Linked DNA regions of Homo sapiens. The protein of the gene in region 1 purifies or fractionates together with the protein of each later gene. This does not show direct contact. Each region holds a gene or a part of one and is shown on either strand. Other genes may lie near its edges.

Region 1 (3,718 bases):
TTTATATTTTCCTTGGAAAAAAAAGAGCACGGATGCTAGTGAAAAAAAACAGTCAAGTAGCATTACTCTAGAAAAGGCACATAATAAAACCAGCTGCTGAACTTTAGGGATGAAAATGAAGGAGTCTTCTTTGATTTTTCCTCAATTCTTCTAACCAAAGCCTCAACTGCAATTTTTTTCTCTTCAATCACTGATAAATACATAAAATCTGACGTCCTGTGCAGTTATGATCATTTTAACTATGTGTGATAGAAAAAAAACACTATCACCCAAAGTTATAATATCTGAAATTTGAAAAATGCTTTTGCATAGATTTACATCCCACAAGAATCTTATGCAGTAGGTTATACAGGCTGTAATCTACGCTAAAAAACTTACTGAAGTTTTCTTGGCGAGTTCCTGAAGATGTAAAACTGATACTCAGGCTTTGTGATTCTAAATTTAATTATCTTTCCAGGAGGAATGGATGAACTTATGGTTTAGTGTTATGATTGCATTTATCCTACTATTTGACAATAAATAGTTTTCACAGATCTTCAGAAAAGCAAACTGTTTGAATCTGCAAAGAAATCCCATATGAAGGCTTAATACCATAGCCTGATTCTGCATTTGTAATTTTCATACAGGTAGTGTTCTACAACCAGATGCATCACCTTCTAAAACTGGTACATTAACCTCAATACCAGTTACAATTCCAGAAAACACCTCACAGTCTCAAGGTATGATATCTGTGTGCCTGAGTGGAAATCTGCTCTACCTGACCCTTTCTTGACTGAAACCCTAACAATCTTGACTCACAAAACAGAGCTCCTTCAGAATGAGACTGAATCTTTTGCACTTGCAGCATCATACCTACAAATCATGGCTGTTTCCTTAAATGAGGGTGGAGGGAGGACTGCAAGAATTGGCACACATTAACCAAAAGTGACTTGTTTTTTTCTTTCTTAAAGTAATAGGCACTGAGGGTGGAAAAAATGCAAGCACTTCAGCAACCAGCCGGTCTTATTCCAGTGAGTAACAGCAATGCCTTCATTCATGGCAGTAGATATGCAGAATGTTTGAATGTGACCAGTAAAGGAGAGGAATCAGATTATGGGCAGCCTTTTCTCAACTTTACTGAGCCTGCAATCCCATTACAATCCCATCTAACTGCTGCCTGCTCTGAAAATTTCCCACAAGTGAGTCTTAATGACAAAAAAAAAAAAAAAGAAAAGAAAGAAAGAAAGAAAGAAAACAGAAGAGGAAAAAAAGCACAGTTTGGCAATTTTTTTCTTAGTTTAGTGTTTAACAATTACGATCAAGGGCCAAGGATGACTCGATGGGACTAGTTTCAGATAAGTCAAAATGCACAGGTAGAGGTCCCCATAAAAGTGAATTATTTCCAAATTATCAGGTTGTATACCCTGAATATATTTTATTTTTGTCAAGTAAATAATTAAAATAATAAATAAATTATATCAAAAAATGAATTGTTTGCCTTCATAGAACATTAAAAACGGCCTTTAAGAAATGTTCCATTTTAACTAAAACCTATATATGTCATATAACATTTATGTGTGTGCTAAGACTGAATACAGAATATTAAATAACTTCCTTAGTAATTAAGAATAAAAAGACAATATTCAAAACTGTTATTATAAAAGGCTCTATTAAGTTTAGTTAAACCCATTCCATTAAATAAGTCATCATAGAAATTACTGACCTGCTGATTCACGGCATCTTCATTTGGGAGGCAATAATGATTTCACCTAAGGTCTATTATGAAATCAGCAGAACTTACTTAAAACAAATATTTAACTCTGACAATGGAAGTGTAAACCATCCTACAGATGAATTGGAGAGTAAGTCTCACCCCTGATAAATATATAAGGAGTACATATGAAAGCAAATATGCTAAACTAATAGTCATCTTAATTTCCTTTAGTTGTGTGTCTATGACAGCTCTCTTGCTTTTATCACTGTACTTTTAACCTTGGAAATAACCATCAGAAAAGAAGGAAAGAAGGAAGGAAGGAAGGAAGGAAGGCAGGCAATACTCTTCCTCTTAATACAAATATGAAAAACTCACCCTAAGTTACTGCAGCAACATCACTCCCCCAAACAGACACACATACACATCTCTCTTGAATCATGTTCATTTTCAAGAATCATCTTCACTGTGGTATCTACTTACATTATTTTATGCCTTTTCTAGTTTTAAGGTATTATTATAGAAAGAAATTTGTGAGTGTTTTAGAAAGCCAGCATTAGGACTAAAGCAATCCCCGTTGGGTTATATATATTTTGGTAACTTCATTATAAAGTACTAAAAAATGTAATGAGTGAATGAGGATTTAATTATAATCTAGAGTACATCTTCTGCTTCTCCAGTCTCCCATCTCCCCACTTCTTCAGTCTCCAGGAAGATGGGGGCACTCTCTCTTAAGGTTGGAATTTTGTTTCAGAAAGGTTACAAGACTGACATCAAGTGGTTATGTCAAAGATGACAACTAGAGCAAACCCCATGAATCAGAGGAATCTTTGCCTAAAATATGTTTTTAATAGAATGATATTTAAAGAAGAAAGGAAGTACTCATGCTTTGGCTCACTTACCAAACTATCGCTGTGAAATTCAGTAGCCACTCTAATTGACAATGTCTCCAATTCTTTTTAGGTATTATTTTGCCGGTGGTTATTGCTTTGATTGTAATAACACTTTCAGTATTTGTTCTGGTGGGTTTGTACCGAATGTGCTGGAAGGCAGATCCGGGTAGGTAACAGTGTTTTGTTTTGTTTTCCTGAAAGAAGAATGAATGCTCAGTTTAAACTTGATTTTAAATTCTTAAAGGGAGAGAAAAGTTATAGAAAGAAATGAAATGTCATATTTCCTGATCACAGAAACAAAGGACGAAGGGCACAGACACCCACTGAATGCTAGTGAACTGCAGAGTGGGAACTAAATACTATGAGTAGATATTATCAAATATAGGGAAATTCTTTTTAATAAAATAGCCCAAATTTTATGGGTGGTCAGGGGAATATGATAGTAAAGAGGGCATAACAATGACATAACTTGTCTATGGTAAAGATTAACTCCATTTCTATGTAACAGAAAATAAAGAGGGAGATTGCTAAGAATTCAGCTCAGGGGCCCATAATCTCAAAAAATGTCCCGTGACTAATTTCCCTCCTGGGAGACACACCCAACGAAAGTATCTTCCAAGACCATGTTATATTTTTTATCCTTTTTAAAAATAAACTTTCTATTTTAGAGTAGACTTAGAGTTACAGGGAAGTTGCAAAGATAGTACAGTGAGTCACCATACCTAGTTTCCCTTATTCCCTTATTAAGATCTGATGGTATGTTTGTCACAATTAGTGAACTAATACTGATAAATTATTGTTAACTAAATTCTGATTTCTTTTAGTCTTTACTCAGTCTTTTTTCTGTTCCAAGAAATTTGCCTCTTCTTTACTCAACCTTCACCTAAATACCCCTTCAACTCCCATGGCTCAGCTGTCATGTTACCGTAATTGCAAACTATCTTTCCACTTCACAGCCCAGCCCTGGTCGTATAATGTAGTAGCATGTATCCATGCCCTCATCCATACTATTCCTTCTGGAATATCCAGCCCACCTCTTACCTTTCATAACATACCTAATCTCCAACTTACCCATTAGGACTCAACTCAAACACAAATTTACTGTATCTTTTTATAACATACCACTTCTTCAAGC
Region 2 (4,246 bases), on another chromosome or scaffold:
CTCCCAAAGTGCTGGGATTACAGGCAGGAGCCACCGCGCCCGGCCTTTTTTTTTTTTTTTGGAGACAGAGTCTCATTTTGTCACCCAGACTGGAGTGCAGTGGGATGATCTCTGCTCACTGCAACCTCCGCCTCCTGGCTTCAAGTGATTCTCCTGCCTCAGCCTCCTGAGTAACTCAGATTACAGGTGTGTGCCTCCACACTAGGCTAATTTTTTGTATTTTTAGTAAAGACGGCCTTTTGCCATGTTGGTCAGGCTGGTCTTGAATTCCTGACCTCAAGTGATCCACCCGCCTCGGCCTCCCAAAGTGCGGGGATCACAGGCATGAGCCACCGCGCCCAGCCCAGAAGGCCTTTTCAACATCCCTGAAATATAACCTGAGCACCGCTGTCTGCTTAGGGCCTGAAGGTGGAAGTGGTTACCTTTATTCTTTATCTGGATGTCATTTCGATTTTTTTTTCAAGTGCAGTGAAGAATTAAAGATCTCGTCCACCAAAAATACTCCGAGTGTGCATTTCGGGTTTTAATATGGTATTGTCTGATGGGTTTGACAGGCTGGCGGTCCAAGTTGAAAAAGGTCTGTGGGTGTCTAATAGTCAAAGATGCCTTTATGAAGCTTTAGAAAGACCAGATATGGTTTGCCTTCAATTAAGAAAAAGGTGGAATATAAAGATATTTGTACTTATATAAATATATTCCTTCTTTTCTTCTCCTCCTCCTCCTCTGCCTTCAACTTTCTTCTTCTTCTTCTTCTTCTTCTTCTTCTTCTTCTTCTTCTTCTTCTTCTTCTTCTTCTTCTTCTTCTTCTTCTTCTTCTTCTTCTTCTTCTTCTTTTTTAACTCTCCTTTTAGAGTTAAAGACTGGAGCTAAGAACAGGGGAGCAATAGACAGATGAAGTGTTCCCGGATTGCTGCCCCACGCTCTTTGTAATAAAGGAAAACTTGGCCAAAGGTCAATGCTTAGGGTAGTAGAAGATATGTAGTGGCTTGGCTTCTTGACTGGAAACTAGGACGGGTAGAGTAGCTGAGAGAAGTGGGCCCCAGAGCAAACTGGTTGCGGGTAGGGGGAGCCAGCTTCAGCCCGGTAATGAAGCCCATTTCAGCCTCATTCCTTTCCCATGGCGGAGGCAGCCTTCCTTCCCCAGGCCTGGCTGGAGGTGGAGGCAGGCCCAAAGTTAGGGGGTCAGCTCGCGCACCTAGGGCCGGGAGACAGACAAATTCTGGCGGAAAGTTGGCAGCCACGGTCCCCCTCCCCTGCTTTTCTCCTCAACTCTCCACCCCCACTCCGGGTGATAACGGCGGAGGTGGGGGGTTGGGGGAACTGGCCTTGTGTTTTGGAACAGCTGCAGCCGGCGCTGGGCCCGCCTGGAATGCGGGAACAGGCTGCACACCAGGACTTTTATGGAAACTTGCTGCTGGAGACGGCGGCGGCGGCGGCGGCAGCGGCAGCCAGAGGACTCCCAGCGGCTGGAGCAGAAGTGTTAGCGGCCAGAGCTCCCAGACCCCTACCCACAGCCAGGCGGGACGCGCACAGTCCCTCCACGCGGAAAGAAGTACCTTCGCCGGTCACCGGCTCCTGCAGGGTGAGAAGAGTTGGGGGAACGTGGGCTGGGGGGAGTGGAGACGGAGGTGTCGGGTCCCCTGGTGGGGGCGGGGGCGGGAACGGCGGCTGCAGAGAGGCGCTCGGGGTCTGCGGCTTCTGGCCGTGCTCCGCTGCAGCTCCGGAGGGCGCCGGGCGCCATACAGCTGTGGTCCGCGCTGGCCCCGGCCCGGGCGAACCCTGCCTTGGAGCCGCATCCTGCGGGCTCGGCGGGGTGCCTACCAGGGGCTGCCCCAGGGTCTGAAAGTGTCGGCCGGCCTTGGGCTTCTGGTTGCAATGTCTTTGCCCTGCTCCCCTGCGCCTTGTCGGCTGAGTTTCGGGTGCGTTCCCTACTGTAGGGAGGGAGCCCTCTGTGAGCGGAGTGGGTGCCGATCCCTCGGCTGAACCCTTGGGGTCCTTAGGGAAGTTCAGTGCCGTCCCCCACCACTTGCCCCAGCCGCGGTCTCCGTCTCTGCCAGCAGTGCCAGTTAAGAAATCCTTTCTGATCGGTCTCTGTGGAAGATGGGGAGAAATATGATTTAACAGCCTATTACTCCCCCCCCACACCCCCGCATATCCCCCCACTCCTGTCTCCAACCCTTTTTTTTTTTTTTTTCGTGATTCTGCCCGAGGTGGGATGCTGGGGGTTGAGCAACTAGGGCTGGAAGTTTACGAAGTTTACGTAGTTTAAGTGAGTGAAGAATGTAGTCACCTCTTGAGAACTCCCTTTGCCTATATGCTTTTGAAAACGCCAAACCATTCCAGCTGTTTGTAAATTGTGAAACGTTCTACAAATGCATTAGCATTGGCATTTATAAAGAAAATGACGAAGTTGAGAGGTTATAGTTGGTTACTGCAGTGACTTAGAGATGCTCATTTTATAGTTATTAAAGCACAACGTGAACCAAGTTGGCAGAGAGATAACAAGGTAAAAATAGCATAAGGATATGTCCTAACAAAATGTCCTTGGTGAAGACACAGGTAGAGAAAAGAAGCCATAATAAAGAAATTAGTTCCCTGACCAAAACAACGGGAATATCATTCATCGTTAAATTTTGTTAATGAATTCATGTAGCAGCGGCCCATTGGCCTTCGAGTCACAACATAACTATGTCTTAGGTAATGTGATTAAATAAACTTAAGTATTTATACTTAAGTTCATATCTTAGTCACACGTTATTTATATCTTAGTCACACGTTATTGAGTGGACCACATAATTTCCCCCGCTAAACATTATCCTTTACAGGTTAAACTGCTGCAGTTAGAAAACTTTGTCTCAAATTCTTTTGAGTTTGGGGTATTGTTAAGAAAAAATGCATAATTAATCAAATGAGAGAAAGGTTTTTTGGGGGGAGGTATAATTTGTATAAGTAAACTTTGATTAACCAATGTAGCTGTTTAAGTTTCTTCTTCCTTACAATTAACACCGTATTTTTGCAGATATTTTATATTTTGACTAATGCTTCTGAGGAACAATTTAAAGAAAAATGCATGCAATTATGTAGTTTATCTGCAATTCCCTTAAAGAATTCTAAGCTAAAACCACAACAAAATTATTTTAAATCCAGTTTTCCTCATCATAGTTACAATGTAATCCAGTTTTAATAAAAGATTCATATTTTAAAATCCATTTTCAATTGAAATGTAATGAATAGCAATTGTTCCTGCTCACCTTAAAATGGAATTTGTGCTATTTTTGAAAATTTGACATGTAAGGCTGATCATTGTCAAAATGTATGTCATCTTGAGATGACTATATTTAGCATCAACAAAGGAATGCATTATCTAGGTTTTTGAACAGTCTTTTTCCCCTGAAATTTCACTTGAAGTATTTAGGTTAGGGTTTCATTTTTGAGCAGAATAAAAACTAAATATGCATATTTGGAAGACATTAATTGGGGATTCAGATTGCTTAGAATCTGAGCGGCCTATAATGACATACTTCATTTATTAAAAAAAATACCTGTTATCTTTGAAATACCCTAAAAGACAAAAAAAAGGGGGATTATTTAAATATGAGAGTTGTGCACACCTAAAAGAAAGAAAATAATGCAGTGAATGTGGAAAAGTATGTAACAGACAGGTAAAAGTCTAAACGTTTTTATAGAAGAGAGGACTGTTATTTTATAGTTATGTAGGCCACACACACACAGAACATCTTGGTAGTTTATAATTTGGAGAGAAAATGATTTATAACATTCTTAACAATTTCACATATTTCTGTTCTTATTTAATCAATCTGCGGTCCATATCACCTGTGTAGTTTCTTTCATGTTCTCTTTCTGGGTTTATAATTGCATAGTTACATATTATATACATTTGAAATGGCTACATTTTCCTTTATTATTTAAATATTCAGTGTATAGTTTGGCTTAATTTATAGTAGTTTACTTTCTATACTCCAGGGTGGGTGGATTTGTACCCAGAAATCCACCTTAAATTTTAGTTTAATTTGTATTATAATGTTAATACACCATGTTATATTTATGGTTAAAAATTATGGAGAATGGAAAAAGGGGCTCTTGTAATCTGACACTCTTACTGTTAGGATTTTGATGTATTTCCTTTAAGTCTTTTTCCCATGCATAGAACTCTTTCTTTTTGCATTGACATATCTCAATAAAACAACATGTGAAAGCATCCCATGCAGTGTCTGCCATCCAGTAA
Region 3 (4,272 bases), on another chromosome or scaffold:
GAGCCCCAACTAAGTTGATCTATTTCCGAGCCCCTCTTCTGCAATCTCTGCTCTCACCTTCACGGTCCGCGAGTCTGGGGCTCTGCAAGCCTCCAACACACCCTCCCTCCCTAAGGAATGTGGGCCCCGCTTTCTGGGCCTGCCAGACCGAGCGCCTACCGCTTCCTCCGCAGGCAGGAGCCGGGACGCTGCCTTCACCCCACCCTCCGCCAGGATCCAGTTTCAAAGTCACCTGAAAGCCATTTCCTTCCGCGCCTGCCCCGCCTCTCCCCTCCCAGTAGATCACCTGGAGCTTGCATTTGCCCAGAGCAGCATTTTGGGGCGGGCGCTTGTTTTGTTTTAAATGATACCTCTAGAAATCGTTTGCTGTACACCTGGATAACAAATATACCCCGTGGTTCTAATATCAGCGTCCTATTCCTCCTCCCAAGGAACTAGTGATAGCGCCTAACCAGTGGGCGTTGTTCCTCTTCCGGAGCCCCACTCTGGGCTTCCCTCCTCCGGGCTTGTTGTTCTTCAGGATCTTTACTGATGAATTATTATGGGTTTTTGGATTTATGCTCTTGCTCAAAATGTATTGAATGTCTCTGTCCCCCATCCTCACCCCTTGCCCCCCAGTTTCCAGGTGTGTACCTTTCCATGCATACACGGTCATATACAGAGACATAAAGACAAACGGTTCTCTTTGTTTTATAAAAACGGGTCCTCTATCATCCAGGTTTCTGTGTTTTATTTTTCCTATTTAACAGTTCCTTGTGGAGTTGCCTTCACGTTGTCTCCTTTATCTCTTTCCCGTCAGCTTCTCAGAGGTCTGCATTTACCACTGTAAAGCGTCACAGGGACCGAGTTATGGTGAGGAATTCAAGACATGCCTTTCTGACTTGGAAAAGCGGACACGGCCGGCTCTGGTAGGATTAGGATCCCCAGATCGATCCCGGCTGGTCACTCACTTGGGAAAGCCCTCAGCCCCCTTCGCAGGGCCCGGTGTTCCCTGTCCATACAAGGGGTACGTTCTGGCAGTCCATGCTGTCTCGGGAGGCGGTGATAGCAGGTCTGTGACACCAGGGTGACCCCACCACGTGCGTCTTGGTATCCTAGAGCATCTAGGCTGCCCGGGGGTGCGCGCTCATCACCCTGCGGGCGTTAATCGTTAACCGCGCCCAGGCCTCGCCGCCGCCGCAGCCTTACCCCGGCTCTGGCTCGCCGCGCCGCGAAGGTTGCCCCGGCCCCCGCAGAGCCGCCAATTGCTGGACTGCAGCCGCGAGCTGGAGTCTCCACCCACAGGAAAAATTCCTGGCCCGCCCCTCCCTCGCTCCCTCGCTCCCTCGCTCCCTCGCTCCCTCGCTCCCTCGCTCCCTCGCTCCCTCCTGCCCTCCCGCTGCAGCTCCGGCTCCGCTCGACTTCCTGCCGGGCGCTGGCAAGCCGCGCGCTGCCTGGGGTCTCCGGGGGCCGCGCTTGCAGCTGGCCGAGTCCGGGCCAGCTGAGGGGCTGGCGGTGGGCGGGAGCGGTCGGCGGCCTCAGCCCCTTCAGAGAGCGACTTTCAAACTCGCGCCCGCGTCGCGGCAGCACCTGGGCAGCCCCGCACGCCGTGCGCGTCCCGAGCCCGCGGGGCAGCTACCGCTCGGTGAGTGTCCCCTGATTCTCCTCTCTCCCCTCTTATCTCCCTGCATTAGGCTGAGCGGCGGTGCCGGCAGTCACGCTGGGGCCCCAGTCCCTTCGCGGCCCCCGTGCCAGCCCCCTGCGGGGTGAGGACCGGGGCGACCGAGGAGGGCCTGGAACTGTGTTGGCTGCTTCCCGGGCCACCCTGCCGCAGAGTGCGCGAGCGCAGGAGGGTCGTATGGGGAGACTTTTTCTGTCTTTTTTTCCCTCCACTCCGGAAACAAAAGGGGCAAATGCGCCGGGCGGCTCCAGAGAGGCTCAGTTTGAAATCCAGGAAGCCCGCGAGGCCGCGCGCGCCCGAGGGCTGGTGTTTGGCTGGAGCTGTGGGCCTGGCGGGTGGACCCTTCTGCGCGAGGACCCGAGCCTCGGCTCCTGCCAGCCCCGGAGGCGCCTGCAGCCTGTTCCGGGTTGGCGCCGCACGGTGCTCGCTGTTGGGAATCTCGGCTACCTGTCCGGCAGGGAGGAGAGTGGGGGCCAGAAGCGGGGAGCGGAAAGCCCGGCCACCAGCTGCCTCGACCTCGTCCACTCCTGAAGTCGGTTTGGTTCTTCGCACCCCTACACCCAGCCCTTTGGTTTGGAAAGCCAGTATAAGGCGTGCAAGCTTAAATTTTTAAGGCGTTAAATAGCTACTTTGACTCTTCGGGGCGCCTTTGGAACACAAAAGGAAGAACGGAGGGGAGAATGGAATGGTTGGAGGCTGGAGAGGTGTGGCTTTTGGGGAGGGTGTTGTTAGAGGCCGCGAAAGAGTTTGATCCTCGAGGTCACTCGCTAATCTGTTGGCATATGTAGGTGCCTGTCCCCTGCTCTGGGGGCCCCAGCAGGAGACCCACACTGCGTTCACCTTACGGGGAACCCTGGAGTGGGGGTTCCCAGAGTCTCCCCAGCCGTGCCTCTGCACGCAGCCCAGTCACATGGCCCTTGCTCAAGAAATAATAAGCAGGGAGGGCAATGACAGTCCGGAGCGGGGGAGGGCCTCCCCGTTGAGCACATCGGCCACCTCGCCTTCAGCAGTGTGGTTTTCCGGGCCATCCTTTGTTGGACAAGGATGGGATCCTGAGTGATTAAACCCCAGCTGTTCCCCAGGAGGAAACTAGGGAGTGAGAACCAAAAGTGTACATTTATCTCTCTGTTATACATCTCTCCCCTGTGGTTCCGGGCTGGCCCCCTGGATGCAATGGCCTCACTTCTCCTTTCGACACCTGCTGTCCTCCACTCCCTTCCTGGAAGATAGGACAACCCATTAGCTCCCTGGGTAACTTGCCCTGGGGATGGGGCAGGAAGTTGGGGGAAGAGGTACCCAGAGGCCAAGTCCTAGCTGCTGAGGGAGTGATTTGTTGAAGAGCTGCTTTGGGGGCTTTTCTACTGCCTTTTATTAGAAGTGGCATGGCAGGGGAAGTGGAAAGAGCACTGGCCTGATAGTCCAGCACGGGTTTATGCCTGAGTTTTAGACCTGGCTCTTCTGCATAGCATGGAAGATTGGTAGAGTTGAAGAGTGCGAGTCACTTGGGCTGGGGGGCCCCTTGGATTAGCCTACTTCATTTACTCGTGAAGGCAGCAGAGCCCAGAGGGGTGAGGTGATTTCAGCCTTAGACCCTATTGGCCAAGTAGAAACCAGAGGTCAGATGTCCTCATTGTCTGATCTGTGTTTTCTCCAACATGATCTGGCCAATTCACTTATCTTTTCTGACTCAGTTTCCACATAAATAAAGTGGGATTACTTGCCTGCTCTTCCTCATAGGAGCTGTGGTGAGGATCAAAGGAAGCCTCATTTGTGGAAAGTGCTCCATAAACTCCTGTTAAAACTAAAGGGCTCACAGTGGCTCGGGAGGGAGTCTCCCAAGGGTTTTACAATTTGCTGGCTATGTCCCACGTGTGTGCCACAAGGAGACGTTAGATACCAGGAGCCATTGTTGGATGTTTAAAACACCCTGGTCTTAATATCTCAGCCCCAGAGTAAACATTTGCCTTACCAAATCCGCAGCTATCCCACGGTCACTGTTTACGCTGGAAGAGGCCAAAGGCCACGGCCTGCGGGATGACCAGGGCTGGAGGGGGAAGGCTCCTCTGTTGCAGAGGTATGCCTTGCCCGTTCTCTTCTCCCAGCTCCCAGAACCTTGTGAAGGCTCCAGCTGTAAGCCAGGGGTGCTGCCACAAGCCCAGGCCGCCCTGGCCTTGGAGGGTTAAAAGTGAAGCCCTCTGGCTATTCTCTGTTGTGTTGGGGGTTGCAGGGACTCTGGGAGGGTGTTGCTTTTGCAGCTGCACTGAGGGCTGTCTTCAGCTCCTCATCTGTGCCCCCTCCCCCATCTCAGGCCGCCCCTCTGGCCCAGGCCACTGCTCTGTCCCGCCTCTCTGGCCAGCTGCAAGTCCACAGGCCTTTGTTCCGTGGCTGCAAACCCGCCCTACTCCATCCTCCCTCCTCAGCAGAAGCCCTCCAGCGGGGGCCCTGGCAGCTGGAAATCACAACTGCCAGGAGGAAGGGGCTACTGGAGCCCCCAGCGGACCTGGCAGATCCTCATTTCCTCTTGTCAAGCTCATCTGGGCCCCACAACTCACCTCTGGCCAGATTCCCACACCGTCTTTTCTCATCTCTCCTTTCTTCTGCTGAATGGACGG

The links.
Region 2: the proteins of EMCN (region 1) and NEXN purify together in Homo sapiens (affinity purification with mass spectrometry; one large-scale study listed by BioGRID and IntAct). This does not show direct contact.
Region 3: the proteins of EMCN (region 1) and PLEKHG3 purify together in Homo sapiens (affinity purification with mass spectrometry; one large-scale study listed by BioGRID and IntAct). This does not show direct contact.

What each region holds. Positions count from the first base shown.
Region 1 is NC_000004.12:100,420,313-100,424,030, reverse strand, and holds part of EMCN (endomucin isoform 1 precursor), read left to right. Parts: intron 1-626; coding exon 627-719; intron 720-950; coding exon 951-1,010; intron 1,011-2,592; exon of another isoform or gene 2,593-2,653; coding exon 2,654-2,749; intron 2,750-3,718. UniProt on the Homo sapiens protein: Endothelial sialomucin, also called endomucin or mucin-like sialoglycoprotein, which interferes with the assembly of focal adhesion complexes and inhibits interaction between cells and the extracellular matrix.
Region 2 is NC_000001.11:77,887,178-77,891,423, forward strand, and holds the start of NEXN (nexilin), read left to right. Parts: upstream 1-1,446; 5' UTR 1,447-1,582; exon of another isoform or gene 1,583-2,091; intron 2,092-2,290; exon of another isoform or gene 2,291-2,362; intron 2,363-4,246. UniProt on the Homo sapiens protein: Involved in regulating cell migration through association with the actin cytoskeleton. Has an essential role in the maintenance of Z line and sarcomere integrity.
Region 3 is NC_000014.9:64,703,081-64,707,352, forward strand, and holds the start of PLEKHG3 (pleckstrin homology domain-containing family G member 3), read left to right. Parts: upstream 1-1,343; 5' UTR 1,344-1,624; intron 1,625-4,272. UniProt on the Homo sapiens protein: Plays a role in controlling cell polarity and cell motility by selectively binding newly polymerized actin and activating RAC1 and CDC42 to enhance local actin polymerization.